6 separate regions of the Homo sapiens genome follow, and all the other regions are reported to be linked to region 2. Evidence: microRNA targets listed by miRTarBase, many of them from high-throughput screens and not tested one by one. Region 2 holds a microRNA gene; each other region holds the end of a gene's coding sequence. Distances are between the middles of the regions.
Evidence for each region. Region 2 holds the annotated microRNA hsa-miR-188-3p (CUCCCACAUGCAGGGUUUGCA, at 2,568-2,588, opposite strand). A microRNA usually pairs through its seed, bases 2 to 8, with sites in the 3' UTR of a target mRNA and lowers its output. Matches are read on the target gene's strand: a 7mer-m8 pairs with bases 2 to 8, a 7mer-A1 pairs with bases 2 to 7 and ends in A, and an 8mer does both.

Region 1: miRTarBase lists PPP1R3D as a target of hsa-miR-188-3p. Seed matches in the 3' UTR shown: 7mer-A1 at 2,217-2,223 and 8mer at 1,465-1,472.
Region 3: miRTarBase lists SLC66A2 as a target of hsa-miR-188-3p. Seed matches in the 3' UTR shown: 7mer-m8 at 2,707-2,713.
Region 4: the mRNA of WBP11 is a reported target of hsa-miR-188-3p. Seed matches in the 3' UTR shown: 8mer at 1,007-1,014 and 8mer at 1,073-1,080.
Region 5: miRTarBase lists KANSL3 as a target of hsa-miR-188-3p. Seed matches in the 3' UTR shown: 7mer-A1 at 2,032-2,038.
Region 6: miRTarBase lists SPIN3 as a target of hsa-miR-188-3p. Seed matches in the 3' UTR shown: 7mer-A1 at 2,821-2,827 and 8mer at 462-469.

What each region holds. Positions count from the first base shown.
Region 1 is chr20:59,936,214-59,939,213 of GRCh38, forward strand. PPP1R3D (protein phosphatase 1 regulatory subunit 3D) reads right to left here. Exons shown (of 1, transcript NM_006242.4): 1 at 450-3,000. The coding sequence ends at 2,819. It also overlaps a transcript of FAM217B not described here. Among named protein-coding and RNA genes, the nearest start is that of PPP1R3D, 2.6 kb to the right of the region's middle.
Region 2 is chrX:50,002,129-50,006,143 of GRCh38, reverse strand. It overlaps MIR188 (microRNA 188), which reads right to left and starts at 2,641; the gene lies at 2,556-2,641. All of the region lies in intron 3 of CLCN5 (chloride voltage-gated channel 5), which reads right to left. It overlaps MIR532 (microRNA 532), which reads right to left and starts at 2,996; the gene lies at 2,906-2,996.
Region 3 is chr18:79,901,245-79,904,244 of GRCh38, forward strand. It overlaps SLC66A2 (solute carrier family 66 member 2), which reads right to left. Exons shown (of 6, transcript NM_025078.5): 6 at 1,176-2,939. The coding sequence ends at 2,732. Among named protein-coding and RNA genes, the nearest start is that of SLC66A2, 49 kb to the right of the region's middle. RefSeq lists an enhancer at 2,923-3,000.
Region 4 is chr12:14,784,582-14,787,581 of GRCh38, reverse strand. WBP11 (WW domain binding protein 11) reads left to right here. Exons shown (of 12, transcript NM_016312.3): 12 at 84-3,000. The coding sequence ends at 517. Among named protein-coding and RNA genes, the nearest start is that of H2AJ, 12 kb to the right of the region's middle.
Region 5 is chr2:96,592,468-96,596,482 of GRCh38, forward strand. It overlaps KANSL3 (KAT8 regulatory NSL complex subunit 3), which reads right to left. Exons shown (of 21, transcript NM_001115016.3): 21 at 705-3,164. The coding sequence ends at 3,144. Among named protein-coding and RNA genes, the nearest start is that of KANSL3, 44 kb to the right of the region's middle.
Region 6 is chrX:56,990,898-56,994,912 of GRCh38, forward strand. It overlaps SPIN3 (spindlin family member 3), which reads right to left. Exons shown (of 2, transcript NM_001010862.3): 2 at 1-4,015. The coding sequence ends at 3,274. Among named protein-coding and RNA genes, the nearest start is that of SPIN3, 2.6 kb to the right of the region's middle.

The sequences.
Region 1 (3,000 bases), not on the chromosome of region 2:
ATTCCATGGATCCACGTCATATATACAGTTACCCTGTTGAGTGAAATGTTATGTGGCCTATGGCTGTACTTACACCACTCTGAGCTTTATTTTCAGCTAAGAAAAAGGGGATATTGTCTACCAGGTAGCATAACATTCAGAATTAAATGAAATCACATATTTAAAGCACTTAGCACTGTGGCCAAGCAAATAAGGGAAGACAAAATAAATGTAAGTTTTCTTCCCCCATGTGCAAGACTTTGTACTTAGGTGAGGGTCACGATCCGGAAGGCAGACAGACAGACACTCATTACTGCCTGCACAGTGTCATTAACTGTTGTAAGAGAAGTACATTAATGATCACATTCCCTGTATTCCCCTAGAGCTTTCTTCATACCTCATGCTGACCTGGCATATAAAATTGCATTTCCTTTTCTCAAAGACACATACAACAACTCTGCTACTGACGCTGAGGCACAATGACAAAATTTATTTTTGCCAAGGCTCTACGTTTATCAGTGTTGTAGAAAGGATAAGACTTGCATGTGAAATGATTTAGACAAGAAGTTTCTAAAGCTTGGTCTTCTGTAATTAGGCCACAAGAAAAACATACTGAAGCATAATAGAATGGCTCACAACTGTTTTTGCACATATACTTTAATACTTAGGCTTGGGTAAAATCATTTTAAATAACATATTAAAATATGTTTGGGGGGACAACCCAGCAATTGCACAGCCCACTAGAAAATTTTAACATCTAAGTAATATAACTGTTTTAGGGTCTGAAAGTTCTCCTTCAGTTGTTCCACAGCCTCTTTATCAACTAGGCAAATATATTTAAGCTTTTAAATTTCATAATGTTGGTATTTTTTAAAAGGCACGGGAGGTTCACTTAATATTAAATATATAACATTCACTTTCATAACCAAAACCTTTTTGGCAAGTGACTTTCACATAGATTATGAGATTCTCTACATGCCTTAAAATAAATCTGGCAGCTCTTAACTCATATCTAAATTCTCTGGACAACTGTCTTGCTCTCTGTTTTGGGGCCAGGGGCGTAGCAGTGAAGGCCCTAACAGGCTTGCTGACCTAATTGGACAGTTTGTTAAATAGCAGGAAATGTAACAAGGCTTCTCTCTCTCTTGCATGTTAATGTAGTGAACAGTGCTAATAGCCAGAGATTGTGCAATTTAGTCACAATATTTCAAGCCAAAATTCAGTGTTCTTATATTAAAAGATACCGAAGAAAGCTATCCTTGTTCTTTGAATTATAAAAGCACAGAGGTTGCAATGATCAGAACCAAACTGGTTAAAAGCCGAAATGCATCCTTTCAGTATTGATTTGACAGATGCCAACAAGCATTCAAAAATTTAGAGTTAATTTCTTGGTGACAGGTAGCATAAAATTGATCAGACTGGTTTCAGCTGTATCATAAGCTTCACAAATTGGAGATCTTGTCCTTCCTGGCTGTTTTTTTTTTTTTCCCACACCTTAATTCTAGCACCTGTTGTCAGACCACTGTTCAGCACCAAAAGAACTCCTCAGCCTGGAGTTCTTTGGAGTTTTAAGTGATTGCCTAACTCAGCAGGGGACAGTGGTCTTGACTTCTTGGTTGACGGTTTAAAAACATAAAAGAATTTTATATTTTAAAACTGACAAACTAGAAAATGTTAGAAACTCTATCTGAAGGCAGAAAGTATAAAGTTGGTGGGTACCTGATAAAACATGATGTATGTAAATACAGTTCAAAACAATTTAAAAGTATAAATATTTGTCAATTATTTTTCCTCCAGTGCTCTGGCTATTGCTGAAAACACCTTCTAGTTCCACCTTGTAACTGGACTCCCAAAAGATGAATGCTGACATCTTCTGATGCTTAACAAGAAATAAAAATAGTCACCTTAATCATCAAAAAGGTAATTGCAAAGGGCACTGTTGCCTGAAATTCTCTAGTCACCTGAAAACTGAAATAACTGAGGCAAGACTTCTTAAAATGCTTAGTTTCAAACTTAAACAGAATGGCCTGATAATGATCAAACATGTACAGAGAAATACATGAAATCAGAATTGTGAATGCAGAGAAATAACTGTTTTGCTAGTTTAAAAGTCTGAAGCTTTTCCCTCCTCCCCAGCTGTTAATGTAGGAGACACACAGCCTAACCAGGACAGTCTCAATGCCCAGGAATGGTTGTGTGATGACTGATAAAGCAGAAATTTCTTGCCTATTAATAGTTTCCCACTGTTAGAAGGCTACAGCCGTTGGCAATCAGATGTGGGCTCAGGTTTTCCTTATCCTGGGGCAGGAATGCCTGGAGGGACCACGATGTGGGTCACACTGTACATTCTGTTTACTGTGGGCACAAACACAGAACTTTTTTTTTTTAGCTTATTAAATCGAGAATATTCCTGAGGAGGCATCCGCTATGGGCTAAAGGTCCCAACATCACAATAATAAATAACAGCTATGTTTACAGAGACACATTCAGGACACATGCAAAAGCTTTTCCTAGCAGGAGGACTTGGGCCTTTGCAAAACAAGCTGCTTGGGCCTCCCCAGAGGGCCCACCCTCCCATGCACCTACCCCACCACCCTGCCCCAACTCATTACACAACTCGGCCTTCTGGCCACCTGAGGCTACTTTTTAGACCAAGTGACTCAGACGTTTCAAGTAGAAGACAGGATGGGCCACTGCCAGGGGACCTTGCAGCAGAAAATTAGGTCAGAGGACTTGGAGGGTGGTGAAGAACAACCAGATAGATGTGAGAGCCCAGCAGGGAAATGACAGGAGGCGCAGCTTAGGTGTGGAGGCTCCAGGTGGCCGGTCCCCGCGCGGCTCAGATGAAGTGGATCCAGCTCTCTTCGCACTCCCCGCGAGGCATGTGCAGCGCGTGGTTGCGACATGTGAGGCTGTAGTCTCGGTGGTCGTTGTTGTCCCAGTACTCGGCACCCGCCACTTGGTAGCGCACCGCGAAGTGCACGCGGGAGCCGAGCTCCAGCAGGAAGGGCGGTACTGGAA
Region 2 (4,015 bases):
CTCCATCCATCTCTCAACTGAATTATTTCAATGGCCTCCTAACTGGTCTCCCAGTTTCTGCACTTTCTCCTCCTATTTGCCATACAACAGTCAGAACCATACTTGTGAAGCAAAGACACAGAAAACTGTAATCCTGATTTTGAATCAGAAGTATAATGGAATCATGATGTATTTATCTAGAAACAAGAAAACACAAAAACAAAACATTTTTCTGTTCTGATCATTGTAGAAGCCTAAATACAATGACCAATCCAGAGGCAAATATGGTCTTTAAATATCATGTCTGATTAAAAGAAACCAGGGCTTCTTGAAGACATGGCAGATTCCAGGCCTGGGGAAGGTATCTGCGATGAGCTTTGTACATTTTTTTCATCTCTGAAAGCGGAGAAGCTATCAGATAACTACGGAGGCATGTCAAAAGGACTGAGGAACCAATTTGAAGAAGCTCCTACTGGCTAAAGATGGGGCACTGGAGCTTCACTGAAGGCAAGAACTGCAATGGATTAAAAGTCCAAATATATTTAAATCTATGAGTTTATTATAATAGTTTTTTTAAAAAATCCTCTTTAGAGTAAGCTAGTGAACCAACTCATTATTCTGAGTACTGATAAATAAAGAGAACCAAACATTTATCCTATCTTGCCTATAAAGACGGCAACACTGGGTGATCAAATAGCAGATGAAGGGAAGTTTTTCTTTATAGAAGTATTCCAGCTAATAAATCAAGAGAATAATGGGATTAGAATATCATCATTTTGCAACCCCTAATGAAATAACGGCTCTAAGAATTGAGCATCGGTGGCAACTAACATCACAGAAAGATGATCATCAGTTATTTTGTGCCTCTTAATGGAAGTAGTTCTGCTCCCCCTTCCTCAAAATTAAGCCTGAATTTGATCAGGCTTCCAGATGCAACTATCAGTTTACAGGAAATACAAACAAGGAGAAGGAACATGTAAACTACATCACAGGGATGTGATCACAAAAATCCAGACTATGCAAAACTGTATAGGATGAATGGCCCACTTTCTTCCAACAAATAAATTATAAGGAAAGAAAAAATATAGATGGAAGGGAAAGATATAATTCAAAGGGACTTAAGATACATATCAACCAAATGCAATGCATGGACCTTATCTGGATCCTAATTTATGATATTTCTGAGACAAGTGGAAATGGGAACAACAGATATGTGATGATATTAAAAAATTGTTGGCAATTTTTTTTCTTTTTGAGATGAAGCCTCGCTCTTGTCACCCAGGCTGGAGCGCAGTGGCACGATCTTGGCTCACTGCAACCTCCGCCTCCCGGGTTCAAGCGATTCTCCTGCCTCAGCCTCCCGAGTAGCTGGGATTACAGGCACCTGCCACCAGGCCTGACTAATTTTTGTATTTTTAGTAGAGACGGGGTTTCACCATGTTGGCCAGGCTGGTCTTGAATTCCTAACCTCAGGTGATCTGCCTACCTTAGCCTCCCACAAAGTGCTGAGATTACAGGCATGAGCCCCTGTGCCTGGATGGTAATTATTTTTAAGTGTGATAATGGTATGATTTTTTTTTTAAAAGCGGCCTTAGATTTTAGAGATACATAGTAATTATCAGCTTTCCCTTTTTCCATTGTAACTTACTACTTCCCAGCCCTATGCTTCTGCCACAATGGCTCTTTGTTGTTCCTAGAACACAGTAGGCCTTTCCTGACTACCCTATTTGATATCGAAACTTCTCCACCACCATCTATGCTGTAACTACCCCCACCCACTCCTTGTCCCCTTTTCCTGCCTTATTATTCTCCAGAGCACTTATCAACAATTGGCACACTATCTATTACTTACTTATTTTGTTCACTACCTGCCTCCCCTCACTAGGGCAGGGATTCTTGTCTTTTGGTCACTGGTGTATCCCTGGTGCATAGGGGAGTACCCAACACACAGTAGCTGCTCGATAAATATTTGCTGAATGAATGAGTGGCTCACCAAATGAATCGGCTGCAAATCCTGGGTCTGGGGAGATAACAGAGAAAACTCACAATCTGACTCATATCTACATGAGTGTCTAAGAAGACAGATCTTCACACACCCTCTTGAGCAAACAAGTGTGCATATGGAAAGGCATGGCACAGTGAGTGGATTCTACTTTCTGAACCCAAAATGTGTGTGCATATTACATCTTTGCATATGGTTATGATATAGACACAATTTTCCTCACAAACTGGGTTTGTGAGAATTAGCTAGAAGACTCCCTTTTCATCATGCCCCATGTACAGGAGTCCTGAGAAGGTTCTCTCTCCTCCTCTAGGTGCCGCTAAGACAGAACCAGGTCAAAAGACCCCCCTTCCTTCTCTAGGCTGTGCCTATCCCTGAGTATGAGGGGCTGCACCATGTGCAAGAGAAAGCTAAGAGAAGTCTCCCTCTCCTGCAGGATCCATGTAAGACTGAGATGGGAGAAAGGACATGGCTGAGAGTCATTCTCCTTCCCACCACATGGGTGTGTGTTTTTCTTTTGGTGAAGGAGTGCGTATGTGTATATACACATGCACAAGAGAGCAAGGAAAGCTGAGGCTCGCCATCCTGCAAACCCTGCATGTGGGAGGGGTTTTCAGAAAGCTCACCCTCCACCATGCAAGGGATGTGAGAGAGGGAGCAGGGAAGGGCTTGCTCTCTTGGCACGACATATGGGTATGCTCTAGGAGGCAAGAGGCACTGGCCTGGGGGGTGCAAGTGGGCAGCAAGATAGCCACAGGAGTGCTGATGGGTAAACTAGGAGCAGTGGCCATGGAAGCAGGACAGTCATCCAGATGGGATGGCTGCTAACAGTGTACCCCACATACAGAGCACGTAAGAGAGGGTCTACCTCCCTTTGGTGTACCTGTCCATGTGCTCATGCCTATGCACTGGAGAGGGAAGAGAAGGCTCGCTCTTCTGCAAGCCTTGGGTGTGGGAGGGTAATTAAGATGCCAACGGTCCTACACTCAAGGCATGGAGGAGAGAAAGCAAGTCGGGAGGTCTGCTCTCCTGTATACTGTGTGCATGCGTATCCCAGATGCCTTGGACTTCTATGACTGTGCCCCAGACATGCTGTAATGAGAAGGTGTGCTTGTGTACATTCACATATGTACCTTCAGAAATGTTCACTATCTACAACATATTTGTTTTCCTTCCTTCTTTCTTTTCCTTTATTTTTATTCCTAACACCAGTATAGTATTTACATTTGCAGAGCACTGTTTTAAGTGCTTTTCACACATAGCTCATTTATTCTCATAAAATATCCATGAGGTGATCATTATCCCTATTTTACAGATGAAATAACACACATACGAGAACAGATGGTAAGAAAGCTTAGAATCTGGCATGCAGGTCATTAGAAAGAGGACTCAAAAAAGGAGGCTCAAGCTCTCAGCCACCAACCACTTTGTGTCCACACACACACCACACACACACACACACACACACACACACACACACAGAGAGAGAGAGAGAGAGACAGAGACAGAGACAGAGACAGAGAGACAGACAGACAGACAGACGCAAGAGAACTTGCACTTGTCAGCCCAGGGAAAAGCTGGATTAGTGTGGAAATAATAGAGGAAGTGAGAAGTATGAGAAGTGGCTGTGTGGTCAGATTAGACATGTATTTTGAAAGTAGAGCCAACAAGATTTGACAGCAGTTTGTATTTGGAGAATGGAGGGGAAAAAGTGTCAAAGATGAATCCAAAACCTTTAGCTTATTAAAATTCTCCATATCCTTGGCATATGCAATTGGGAAATGCTGTTTGCTGAGTTGGAGAACACAGAGGGAGGAGTAGGGCTTTTTGAGAGGGGGAGGAAAACCAGGACCTCAGCTTTGGATGTGTTAAAGTTTTGAGATACTTATTAGACATTCGGGGCAGATGTCCAGTACATAGTTGGACATAGGCATCTGGAATTCAGGAGAGAAGTCCAGGCTGGAAATACAAACACAGAAATCATCCACATAAAATGGTACTTAGAGTTGCAAGACAAGATGAGAACAGCTGAGG
Region 3 (3,000 bases), not on the chromosome of region 2:
TGCAGGGTCTGGTGGGGGAATCCCAGAGCCCTCCAGGACCAGGGCCCACCAGAGACCACCCTGGGTCACCAGGATGGGGGTGCCAGGCAGTTGTGCTGAGACTGGGGTGGGGGTACATTTCCTCCTGAGCAAGCGGCCCACCCAGCCCCTGGGCATCCTTTTCACTCTACAGGTGCCCAGTGGGCCGCTCTCTCACACAAGCCCCTGGGAAGGGCACAGGGCTGGGGCTCAGGGCAGGTCTCAGTTTCCTCATGGGGTGAGGGGAATGTGAACTTCCCAGGCTCTCACAACCCGCTCTCTCCCACGGAGGGGCCCTCACTGGGAGCCCTCCTCGGCCTCCTGCTTCCTTGGTGCTTCTTTGTTGCTTAAAACCATCAGAAGGCATCACAGGGTGGCAGTGACCTGAGAGTTCAGAAACGCAGCTATTTCCACCGCTGCCCCCACCTGCCACGGCCCCTGCAGTGCGGGGCTGAGACCTTGCTCCCATTTCCTGTTAAAACCCAGAGTGGTCCCCAAGAACCGCCTGTCTCCACACCCTGAAGACACACAACCCCATCCCTGCGCTAGATCTCGGGTTCATCTGGCACCGCCCGCCAGCACTTGAGGAGGGCGATTTGCATCTGAGACGTTCCAGACACGCTAGCCTTCATCATCTCCAGTCTTCCCCCAGGCTGCTGCCTGGACGTGGCCTGTGCCCTCTCCTAGTACCCAGATGGGCCCTTCAACCCAAATCCTGCCCTGCACCCACACACCTGGTTTTTTACTGGACAAAGAAACATCTTGCCTTCAATGTAAACTGCACAGAAAAAATCGCTATGCACACACAGCTCCATCTGTATGTGCTGCTCCAAGATCGCAAATCTGGAAACACTTCTCTTGGCCTTTACAGGAGACCCTTCCCATGCTCTAAGCCTTCGGTGGTGGGAGGCAGAAGGGCGGATGTGGCCAGGGCAGCTAGAGGCAGTGCCAGACCCGTCTGTGAGGAGCCAAAAGGACCCCCGGGCTGCCGGCCCACAGGCACAGGCCAGTGACAGGTCGAGGGGGCTGGGCTGTTGTTTGGGGCCCTGGAGGAACCCAGGTCACACAGGGGCCTTCTAAGGTGGCCCAGGCTACAAGGGTGTGTCTGGGCAGAGGCCAGGACCACAGCCAGATCCTTCCCTCTGCCCAAGGCCAACTCAGGATCCACAAATGGTTTATTGATTCCAAGTCGCCACACAGGGTACATTCAGCAGTCACTGCGCCTGCAGTCGGCGACAGTTTAATGTGAGGCAATTACCGCTACAGACATCTTGCTTCATCTTAAAAAAATAAAAATTTTCAAAGCATCTCACAGGCCAAAGAGCTAAGCAGGACCCTCACTCAGACATTCAAGAGTGTTTCCGAGGAAAACTCGAGGAGGAGGCAGCGTGGAACATCTTCCCATGGCCACGGCCCCGGCACAGAGCTCAGATGCCTGCGGGAAGCGGCCCCTCCACCTGCGGAAGGGAAGACGATGCCTGTTGGAGCCGCACGGAAGCATCCAGAACTCTGAGGCCTGGGGGCCGGCTGCGGTCAGTGCAAGGCTGCTGACATGGTGTGACCTCTTGCAACGGGGTGGGGGCAGAGCGTGCGGTGACAAGGGTCAGACTGGCGGCTCCCACTGCAGCCAGAAGTGAGGGAGCCAGCACACGGGGGTGGGCAGTGGACAGGACAGGATGCGGCAGGCCCCAGTACCCCCCACTCAGGAATTTGCTTCAGGCCAAAAGCCCAGGGCAGCAGGGTAAGGCGCCATCGGCCAGGACCTGCACGGCAGGGGCAGCCCCCTCCACTCCCTGGACCCGAGACCGTCTCTCCTGGAAGATGGACATCAAAACTGCATCCGGAGGTGCAGTCTGCACCCAGAAGGAAGGGGATCTCCGCCAGCAGAGCCCAAGAGTGGCGTGCAGACTGCATGTGCACAGCCTCAGCCCGGCCCCCTCAGCCATTGCCCATGAGGGCCTCCACGTTGTCTGATGGTCGCTGGCATCTGCCACGTCCCCAAGGACTCGAGGAGAACCAGAGGCTGACAAGAGCAGCATGAGCTAGCCCTGGCGATGCTCAGCCGGGCTGGACACAGCGGATCCACAAGGCGTTCAGGCCTCGCAGCCACTCCAAAGGCCCAGGAAACACCGACTGTCAGAAAACCCGGAGCACGGTGACCCTGCGTCCGCACAGCCGCCTTTCCGTGTGTACCAGGCAGAGAAAGCCCCAGCCCTCCCCCGTGCCAGACCCCTGGGTAGCAGAGGCCACCCCAGTCCAAGCAGGGTGTCTGGCCAGGGTGTCACGGGGTCGAGGGCTCCGCTCACAGGCCTTACAGGGTCTCCTGCGGTCACCCCAGCTTCAAGGTTCGCGGCTGCTGGCCCGTGTGTCCACCTGGAGCAGGTTCCTGCAGGCCGCCCAATGTGTACCTTGGGCTCAGACGGTGTTTCATAAGAGGAAATGGGGAAAACACTTGCTTTTTATGTCATCCTAAAAACATCCAAAACCCTCGGGGCCAGATCAACCCTGGCTGTCCCCGCTGAGCACAAACAGCGTCCCAGCCCCACCCCCACTGCCCACCCTGAGACACCCCACAGAGGCTGATGGAGACCCCAATGCCCATGCCCCATCTCTGCCACACCTGCAGGGGCCACAGCACCCACCCTCCCCGCGGGGAGGTCAGGGCCCACCAGTGCCCGCGGCTGGCGGTCCCACATCCTCGTCCTCCCCACTGTCAGAGGGCCTTGGTGCCAGTGGGGTGCACGGCGTGGGGCGCCGGCTTCTGGGGGTGGCGGGCGAAGGCGTAGGCCTGCCCCAGGATGGCCAGGTCCACCAGCACCTGCAGCAGGCCGCACACGGAGAACTGCAGAGGGGCACCCTTCAGCAGGAAGTAGGCCGTCTTGAAGGCGTCACCACTGGTCCACATGAGCACCATCTTGATGCTGTGGAGACACAAGCAGGCGGTCAGCGGTGGGGAGGGCGGCGACCTGGGCTCAGTCAGTG
Region 4 (3,000 bases), not on the chromosome of region 2:
GCAACCAATATTTAAATGTCCTTAATAGTAGTTAAATTTTATTAGTTCTTACAGTATTCATCTTGCCTATTTTATTCATTTAGGTATTCCTCCACCTCGTCCTGGCATGATGCGCCCACCTTTGGTGCCTCCCCTTGGACCTGCCCCCCCTGGGCTGTTCCCACCAGCTCCCTTGCCAAACCCTGGGGTTTTAAGTGCCCCACCCAACTTGATTCAGCGACCCAAGGCGGATGATACAAGTGCAGCCACCATTGAGAAGAAAGCCACAGCAACCATCAGTGCCAAGCCACAGATCACTAATCCCAAGGCAGAGATTACTCGATTTGTGCCCACTGCACTGAGAGTACGTCGGGAGAATAAAGGGGCTACTGCTGCTCCCCAAAGAAAGTCAGAGGATGATTCTGCTGTGCCTCTTGCCAAAGCAGCACCCAAATCTGGTCCTTCTGTTCCTGTCTCAGTACAAACTAAGGATGATGTCTATGAGGCTTTCATGAAAGAGATGGAAGGGCTACTGTGACAGCTTTTGATGCCAGAAAAGGCTTCTGTTCACAACAGTGGCCCATGGAGAAAGAGGCTCTTATTAAACTTAGATGAAAGAGCTGCTTCCATTGTCAGGGTATTTTCTAATTTCAGTTCAAGGAATATCCTAAAATTTAGCCTTGTTCAGAATTTACTGCACATAAAAAAGGGTATTTCATCCAGAATAGATCAGTTATTGAAGCAGTGCTGCTAACATCCATTCCCTTTCATACCACCATTTTCACCCTGTTTCTTCCCCTCCTCCAGTTCTTTGGAAATTTGTGATCGGGGGATCTTAGTTGCTTATTTGTTTTGACTCTTGTGTGCTGTGGGCACTGGAGTAGAGATTTCTGGAGAAAAAAAAACAGTTTATTTCATCTTGCCTTTTGTGTTTGAGTTATTTTTAATATTTTCCTGTAAATATTTTGTAATATTTTACTTGTAATGAAATGGATCACAATGTCATTTCCTAATACAAGGCAGGATATGTGGGAAGAATATGTACAATTATTTGATTAAAATTATTTCCCACTGACCTAAACTTTCAGTGATTTGTGGGAAAAATAAATAAATGTTCTACACCAAGATACTCTGTGTTACTGATAATATGTAAACATAATACCTATTTTATGGACAGAAAAAGTTAAATATTTAAAACTTGGGTCTTTAAGGAACTGCCTTTCTGGTACAGAATGAGAATCTTACTGAAAACATGGTAAAAACTACATTTTAAATTTTAAGGGATAAAAAGGAGTAATTATTTCCCTTTTTTAAGATTGTCATACTGGCTTTAGAGAAACTGAGAGGTGTTAAGAATAGTATGGTTTGGCTTTTATTATTTAAAAGATGTCTTACCTTCAGTGGTTACTTATTCCAGAGCTTCTTGAACTGATACGAGTTGAATGGCAAAAGTCATTTTAAACCATTTTTAAGCTATAAAAGAATCAGAAGAGGTTAGCTTTTTTTCCTTTCTGAATTGGTGGGTTTGGTGTGCTTTTATATTAAAATATGAATGAATAAGAGTGCTTAACATTAATTTGCATTTATACCATTTTCTTTACAAAGTGCTTTAATGTAAACTCATCTACCAATTTAGACTAACTCTTAGTAAGTTTAATGTTAATTTAATGACTAACTCATCTACCAATTAACCCTATAGATAACTTTTCTGGGTATTTTCCCCATTTTACATTAGAGAGTATTGAAACTTAAAAAGGACTCGTGATTTATCCAGTGATCCAAAGTGTGTATTTCATAAACACATACACACAGTGCGTGCATTGTTTAGGCATACGTTACTTTCCACAGTATCTCAAATGCCTTTTACATGAATCCCATACTATCAAAAATTGGTGATAACCTAAAATGTAGTGCAATAATACAATAAGGCATTTATTTTCTTAGAGTTGAGTTGATGGATTTTTAGATTTTTATTCAAGATCTTTTGTTTGTTTGGCTTTGCTTGGAAGATACTGATTTATTCTTTCATATTAAAGCAAATCCTGCCAAAGCACTAAATAGACCGTTTTGGGTTGGTTTTTTAGTGTAATATTAATACGGGTCCACAGGTGAATTGAGTCTGTTCAGATGTAAGGATTGAACCTTATGTTATCAATCCTTGACACCATCCTTGATAACTTACGGATATCAAGGATCAAACCATATGGTATCAATATTGTTAGTTATTCAGCATAAACAGAATTATTTCCCAATACTTGATCTGAAATATTTTTAATGGTCTTACTTGAAACTTATATTCTTTCTGGGAGTGATGTTTTTATCATTTTTCCATGGAGACAGGTTCTAACTCTGTTGCCCAGGCTGCAGTGCAGTGATGTGATCATAGCTCACTGCAGCCTGAAACTCCTGGGTTCAAGTGATCTCTGGCCTCAGCCTCCCAAGTAGTTGGAACTTCAGATACGTGCCACCACAACCAGCTAATTTATTTTTTAGAGATGAGGTCTCGCTATGTTGCCCAGTCTGGTCTCCTAGCCTCAAGTGATCTTCCCATCTCAGCCTTCAGTTGGAGATTTCTGATTTATGTTAATATAAGAAAGCTGTTGATAGTTTATCATAAAGGCATTTCCTTATATTGCTAGTATAATTTTCTGAAAATTAGTGGTGTGACAATACATCAGCTGCATCCACAGGAAAGGGGAATTAATTAGCAGTTCTGATTCTGGGTACACTTGTTATGATCATAATTTACATAATATTTTCATGAAAATGGTCAGCTCACAGCTATGAAATGTAAATGATAGAAATCTTTAATCATGTATATGGATAGACTTGTTACTATTTCCTTATCAAAGTGTCACTTTAGGGACAGCAGTTGCCCCTTTAAATTAAGGATCACCACAATAATACTCTGCCATGTCATGGAATCAGCATGAAGCCCTGGATGCTATCCAAGATTCTGTTTCAGTTCTCATTTTGTATATTCTTGTTTGTGCTCTTGATTAAAATATCTCCTTATATATA
Region 5 (4,015 bases), not on the chromosome of region 2:
GCCCCACCATATCAACATCAATTACTCTTGGCCTGGTGGGAAGTAAACTGAAAAGGTCACGTGCAGGCCAAGCCACCATCTCCTCACCTCCTGGGTTAATCTCTACCTCCAGTCTCCCATCTTAGAACCCTAGCACAATGCAGAGTAGAAAAGACACTGACATCAGACTGTCTGGGTTCCAGTACTGCTTCTGCCATTTCCTGCTGTTTTGACTGCTCTGTGCCTGTTTCCTCACTTATAGAAAGGAAATTACAGGCTGGGTGTGGTGGCTCACGCCTGTAATCCCAGCACTTTGGGAGGCTGAGGCGGGCGGATCACAAGGTCAGGAGTTTGAGACCAGCTTGGCCAACATAGTGGAACCCTGTCTCTACTAAAAACACAAAAAATTAGCTGGGCGTGGTGTCGGGCGCCTGTAATCTCAGCTACTTGGGAGGCTGAGGCAGGAGAATTGCTTGAACACAGGAGGCGGAAGTTGCAGTTAGCCAAGATCGCGCCATTGCACTCCAGCCCAAATAACAATGCGAGACTCCATCTCGAAAAAAAAAAAAGGAAATTACAGTACCCCCTCATACCACCTGGCATTGGTGAGGTGATGATCACTGGCCTTACAATATCTTAGCTCTACCTTTGGTGCCCACTTCATTGGGTGGTTTCCAGAATACATATGAGAAGTCAACTGAAAAGAAGCTGAAGCAATCCAAATGTTGTTTTTGGTGTTTTTAATTGTTTTTGTTAATGTAAAAACAGAACCATCACAGCCGCTCAGCTCTATAACCCATCCAGCCCAAGACTGTTCTAGTGGTGAAACCAAGAGTAGACAGGTCTTCCTACCTCAGTGACCTCAAAACACAAGGACATCTCCATAGGGCATCAACATGCATCTGTCATCCAAGAATCTAAGAACTTCCTGATCCTTCCACATTTTCTATCAATAATATTGCCTTCTGAGGTTATGGATTCCAGGTCTTCTATGAAATAGGTAAAGCTTCCTTTCGCGTTCCAAGAAATATAGTTTGCGAAGGGAACTGGAAAACGTGACTCTAGGCCTCAGCCACTTCCTCTGTTACCCTGTGCAAGTTGTAGAACAATCCACGTTCTCACAGCTCCCCTTCTTCAGTTGTGGAGTTCTTCAAGGTGGACAGATCACACCTCAGGAAGTCATCCCTTGTAAGCACACTAGAATTTATCATAAAGGCAGGTCGGCTTGTTAGTTTTTCTTTGTCCCCAGCATACACTGAGCCAACAACTTAAGTCATGAATGGGTTGTTTAGGGCTCTGTCTGTCCTAAATGATTCCTAAAAGCTTCATATAGCTCATATAGTCTTATTGTCCACTGCTCTTTTGGTGTGGTATGATCCTACCTGTAAAGCTATCAAACCCCTGGGTCCTGGATGCCTCCTCCAGATTTCATACCTTCCTCAAGTTTACTAAATACTTTCTGAATTTAAGAATTTTGAGAAAGTCACCTACCAGCTAATGCAAAAACACAGCCTAATTCTGTGTGAATCCCTGTTGAGATCAGCTTTTCAGGTCAGGGAGGGAAGGTATGGGGTTTAGGGTACCCTCTCCTATCACACACATCCCCCCTGCCCACAGTACCCTGACCTACCTTGCCTGAGACTCCTAGACACTATGAGCTCCCTTCTGGCTGCCACTCAGACTGGCCAGGAAGGCTCCCAGATTGAACACAGGTGACCTGGTATAGATACACACTGTACTGTGGGCCAGAACCATGGACTACATTTTAAGCCATGTTGTGGGCCCTTCCTGCCTACAGAAAAGGACACTTGAGTGGAGTCACACTTGGGTTGCCTAATTTATTACCTTAACTAGAAACATTCTAAGTATGGGAGCCTGTTCTGGAGGATAGCTTCTAAACCAAATCTAAAACTATCTTTGCACACAAGTGTTGTGAAGAGGTAAGCAGGGGATCAGAGCTCCATCTTCTGTGACCACTTCTCCAGGGACTGCCACCTATAGGGCTCAGGTTGGTACCAACAGCCCTGCATAGTAGAGTCACTGTCAATCATCTTCCCACTTGTAAGCAGGAAGACAAAAAGTCTCATGAAATAGAAACGAAAACACTGAAGCATGGCCTTCATCGTCCTAATGCCACAAGTTTCCTGGGATGGCCAAGATACTACCTTAGCTTATTGTCCCTGCTTCACCTCCAGAGACTGGAGACAGAGGATTTTCCGGGGTTGGGGTTTCTTCTCTGACTTGGCAAATTCTTCTTTTTATCTCCAGCTGAACCACCAGTTCCTTGGGTAGCAGAGCAGAGACCTAAGCACAAACCACAGGGCTTACTAGCACATCCTTCAAGCCACTTCCTTTGCTGTTCTATTACTCTTCTTCAGCTTATCTGAACCTGCGGACTCTCTGGATACAGAAACTGCCCAAAGCATGGTGAAAAAGACAAAGGGCCCAGGTTTCACCTGGCAACCACTGCTCCCAACATCTAGAGTAAGTCAAAGAGGCTGAAAGATGACAGCCTAGTTCTCTTTGCCTTCATTATGATACTAACAAAAACCAGAAGTTTCCAGGAGTCAGCAAGCTACTCAGTATCTGACGTGGTTTCTAAGGTGGAGTTGCATGGGGAGCACTCTCCCGTGGCTGCTGAGTGAAGGCAACAGTGATGTCCAAAACAAGCCCGTCCGGCTCTGAACCACCAGTTGGCAGGCCAGGATGACTCCAGTCTTTAGCAAAGAGCTTTCCATTCTAACTCCCGAAATCCCAGACCAGATGGATGTCTCCTCCCAACTAGGCGCAGAGGGTAGCACAGACTTCCAAAAGGAAACACCTTCATTAAATGCAGCAGGCAGTCCTATATGCTGACCCTTGGGTCAAACCACAGCTTAAGCGGGGGAAGAAGTGGTTCTGATCCATGTACAGCCAGATCTGCTGAGGAGTCTGGGGTTCCCAGGAACCAGATTTGCAGATCCTGGACGATGGTGCTTCCCTTGCTGGCACCGTATCACCTAACCTAATGGTTTCTCTGAAGACAGTTGGCGGAGAGGCAAAAATGACTGTCTTAAACAGGTCTTCCGACACGTGGACAGCTCAGCAGGACCACACACCTGTCCAGGGCCCACCATGAGGCAGCCATCACCAACTTGGTAAGGAGGACATATCACACAGCATCTTCAGGGTGCTGGAGGCAGGCGCTGTGGCAGGAGAGGTAGTGAAGAAGGGTCAAAGCTTTGACAGGTTATCATCATATTCAGACCCTCTATCCCAATTATCCCAACTCCTGAGAATTTATTTTAAAGAATTAATTCTCAATAGGAAAGAAGTTGGATACACAAGGACACATGTTCTAGCTGCCAAGTGGTTAACAGAACATGGACTCTAGAGTGAGAGACTCAACTTTCCACTTTTTAAGGCAAGTGCCTATGTTCTCTGAGCCTCCTTTTCCTCGCCTGTAAGAGGTAGATGACAGCATCTACTTTCCAGGGTCACCGTAAGGATTAAATGAAATAATCCACATAAAGCTCCTGAGTTTAATCTGTGCTCAACAACAAAGGTCACCTCATATTATTACACATGAAGACAGAAAAGGAATGCAGAAAAAAGGAAATAGGTGAGTTTTTAAGGGCAACAGAACAGAAGGGAAGATTTCCGTGACTTCTGATTTTGAGGCCTTAGACATGTAGGTGTGGGGGGATGCCATCAATGTTGAGCCCTGCAGCTTAAGAATAAGGAAGCAAGTAGAGAGGGTGGCCTTTTTTACCAACGCTTTCCCCACTTTTCTAAATTTCCCCCTTGGGAAACTCCTAAGAGGTCTCTGAGAATGTAGTAAAGGAGGGAAGGCCAGGCGAGGTGGCTCATGCCTATAATCCCAACACTTTGGGAGGCCAGGCAGGAGGACTGCTTGAGCCCAGAAGTTTAAGACCAGCCTGGGCAACTTAGCCCATCTCTACAAAATTTTTTCAAACATTAGGTGAGCATAGTGCTGCATGCCTTATAGGCCCAGCTACTCGGGAGGCCGAGGCCACAGGATTGTTTGAGCCCAAGA
Region 6 (4,015 bases), 7.0 Mb from region 2:
AGTATGCCACCATTTGTGTAAAAAAAAAAAAAAAACCTGATACACACATACCCACACACAATATGCTTGTAAATACATGGAATATCTCTGGAATGATACATCAGTAACTGGTAACAGTTGTTACTTTTTGAAAATGGGACCAGGGAACTGAGGCCAGGGGTGAGAAGGAGGAAGAGAGACTTACTTTTTAATAGTATACCCTTTTATACTGTTTGACTTTTACCATAGGCATGTGTTATTTTTCTAAAAAACAATTTATATATTAAAACTGTAAAAAAGAATCAAAATAGATACCAGCTTTATAGCTGATAGAGCTGGATTGGAGAACATGGCTTGGACCTGAGGCTGAAATGAACTTCTATCATAAGTCTAACGACTTTGGGATTCCCCCACCCCAAGGAGAGATAGTTGGGTCTAGAAAGCAGATGTTTACCCAGCCATGTAGTGAAGGACTGCAGTCTTTCCCACATCTTGCTGTGTGGAACGAACTCAAGATCCAAGAGTGGCCTAAGCTGCCTATCCATTATAACCATTTTCTCAATCTCATCAAGTTATTCCTCCTCCCAAGCATAAGATTGAATGAGTGTAAGAGAAGATGGGTAGAACTTTCTTCCAAACATTTTTGAGAGATGCAAGTCTTTTCCTTTTCTTGAGTCAGGAGCATGGAGAGAGGAAGAGGATAGATCCCATCATACCCTTGTACATTTTCATTCTCTTAAGCCACAATGGTTAATGCTCAAGACTCTGGTCAACAAACAGGGCTGTGGCTGTCCCCTTCCAGGGAGACCAACAGTATCTTAGAAAAGTTCTGCTCCCATCAATGTAAGATTGGTGAGCAGTTGTTTTTGCCCCCAAGAGGCTCTGAAATAAGTCAAAATAGAACAGTAATTAAATTAACTCTAAGGCTACATTACACCCTAGACTGAAAATTTGATCACAATTGCAGCCCTAATTTACAATTATGTCCAGCCATATTTCCTGACATAGCTGACAACAATTATACAATGACTCCCAAAGATAGCATTAAAATACTCCAAATAATACAATATCAACAACATAATAAAAATGCCTTAGTTTGAACTATATGACCTCACCCCCACCCCATCAACTATTAAACTCCAAGGGAAAAAGGACTGCCCAAAATTAAATTTCTAATTCAAAGTCCAAAATAATTAAAGTCCAAAATTCTGCCTTTCCCAATTTCTCGTTTTTCTCATTTCAGCCATATAGATCTCACAAAGATGTCTGCCCAGATATGGGGTTCCTTCAGCAGCTGCAGCCTTGGCTGTCTTCCTCTTGACTGGGTGAAGTTCCTTCAGGACCTCAGGAGTTGAATTAATCTAACCCCACAATTGCATGTCATACATATTAAAGAGTCCAAAGGGTCAAGAAGACATAAGATTATCACAATATCAACCTCACATCAAAAAAATTAGAAAGCACACTAGTCCCCAGCCACTAGAACAGTTTTTTTAAGCAAATATATGACCCCAGGACTTAGAACATAGGGCAATACAGACCCACATTGCTGTTGTCAGTCAAACATCATAGTAGAGACTTAGTGGCATCAAAAAGCAAAAGTAGACAGATAAAACATAGGAGAAAAGAGAACATCTTCTTTGTTTCATCCTCAGCAGGATGCCAATCTGTGCCGGTAGTCTGGACTCCATGACCTGTGAACTTAAACTAATTTGGAAGATATCTTGCAGTACAGTCCCAATATGATTGTACTGCCTTGAGTCCCAGCCCCAAATGTGCAGAACTCCATGGCCTTATTAGGCTGTTACTGCTAATGGAGCTTCTGTGAGAACCTCAATGAGAAAGCTTTGGTTTTGGCCAGGTGCTTCTCTCAAAAACCATGCTTGTACTTCAACTTTTCTTTCCTAGGCTTTGGTTAACCTCCGCCAATGGCTCTTTAATAATGGAAAGCTCAAAGGCCCTTCCATTGTTTACTTTTCTGCCACAGTAGAACTCACCCTTATCTGCATATAAGTTTCTTAGGGCCAGCCAAGAAACAGGATAGTTAAAAATCCAAACACTAACAAAAATCTATTAGATTTCTATCTACCAATGCCAGCACTTAAAACATCATTAAGCCTACAGATTACCTACCACTGACTGTGTTCCAAGTCCTGCTGGGATACCATAATAGATGAGCCCACCAGTCCCTGCAAGGAAGTATAGCCTGCTTTCAGCCATTCTTGGTTCTCACAAGTGCCTTGCCCACCTCACATGCTGGGACTCTGAATTCAGTCTCCTAAGAATCAAATCTAAAACTTGAGTCTCTCTTAGCACAGCAAAGAAATCTGTATCTCAGTTTGATTCTAGGTTTCTCCTCTTTCATTTTGAGGTTCTGGACAGATCTGTCCAAACCCAGCCAAACCCAGCCTTTGCCTGTGACTGAGGGCTCTAGCTAGAGCCTGGCTTAATGCTCCTCTGGGCTGGCAAAGACCATTTGTGCTAAAGTCTGCCTGCACAGCTTCTATCAGTTAAAACCTACTCCATGTCTGCAGATACCAGCCAGAGCTATTGGAGACAAGAGAGACCCTAATGCCACTGATGACTAAAACCTTTCACTTAAGCTCCACCAGAAATCTTGATCTCTCCACTTGGAGTTTGGTCCCCAAATGCTTGTCTTCTTATCAGTTTTGCAAGGTTTCTCAGCCTATGGTTAGGTACTAAAATGCAAAGTAATTACCTTCTTAATTCTAAAACAGTTGAGCAATAGGTGAAAGAACCGGAAAGAGAGCAAAATTATTAGCCTTACTTTTAGTACAGTTAGAACTGAGAATGCAACTTGAACAAGAGACCAAAATGGGCTTCCCACTCTTTCCCAAGTTAGATTTTTGAAGCCACTTGGGGGAGATTTGAGATTGCAAAGACACTTACCCAGCCAGTCACATGGGATATCTCAGCAAGCTTCACACCTCAATGAGTGTAGAGTCCAAGTGCCAAAAAGAGTGAGGTGAGAGGTGTTCAGCTACCTTTAATCTATTAACACCACCCAAGATAAAAAAAAGTATGAGCCAATGGATGTCAGACTTTACCCTTCTCACTAATCAGTTAAATTGCGGAGAGGAACCAGTGAAAAGGTTGGACAGATGGGCAAAAGGTTTCTTCCAAAAACGTATGAGAGGGCAGAAGTTCCAATTTTTTTGCCAAGCAAAACGTGCAAAAAGGGAGAAGATGGTTCTTACAAACTGGAAAGCAATCAAGACTTTCTGTGTCTACAGATTTAGAGTCTCATATATTTGGCAAATTTCAAGATGACCTCTAAGATGTTTTTACCAAATCGTAGACATAGATATGGAAATCATCATCAAATTTGATGAAGTACACAGAGGGTTTTGCTTCTACCTGATGAATGACCATGCCAGTTCTCTTGGAGCCATCGTCTTTGGCGTATTCCACCTGTTTGCCTACCAGGCTGTCTATGACTTCTCCTGGCTCCCTCTCTGCCAGAGGAGAATCATTGGAATCTTGAAGGATGCGGAGGTCACCATCTTTATAATCATCTAAGAGCTGGTACATATATAATACAGGATCTTTCTCATAGGTAATGTAAAACCATGTGTTCATGACAGGTGCCTGAGCTAAGACCATCCCCCTCCATTCATTTTTGGAACCTTCCTCTGTCTCAAAAATATGTTCCACTGCTTTGCCAACCATTATTTCTGCCAAGTGTGTATCACTGATTCTAGATGATGCAACTCTATTAGGAAGGACTTCAAGTGATGACACTCTTTCATCTCTGTGAAGTTCCAATCCATAAACACAGTCAAATCCATCATATTTGATAAGATACAGAGAGGGATTTACAGGTACCTGATCCAGAACGGTTCCTTTCCACTGTGTTAGAGGTTCATCTCCATCTTTCCATCCGTGCTGAATTCTGCAGCCCACGATGTTCCCCCGAGGCTGGGAGGTGGGTCGGCTCCTATGCTTCTTGTGTGCAGCCTTCCTCTTTATCATGGTAACAGACACACTGCCGTGGCCAGCGCCCGTCCTGGACCGC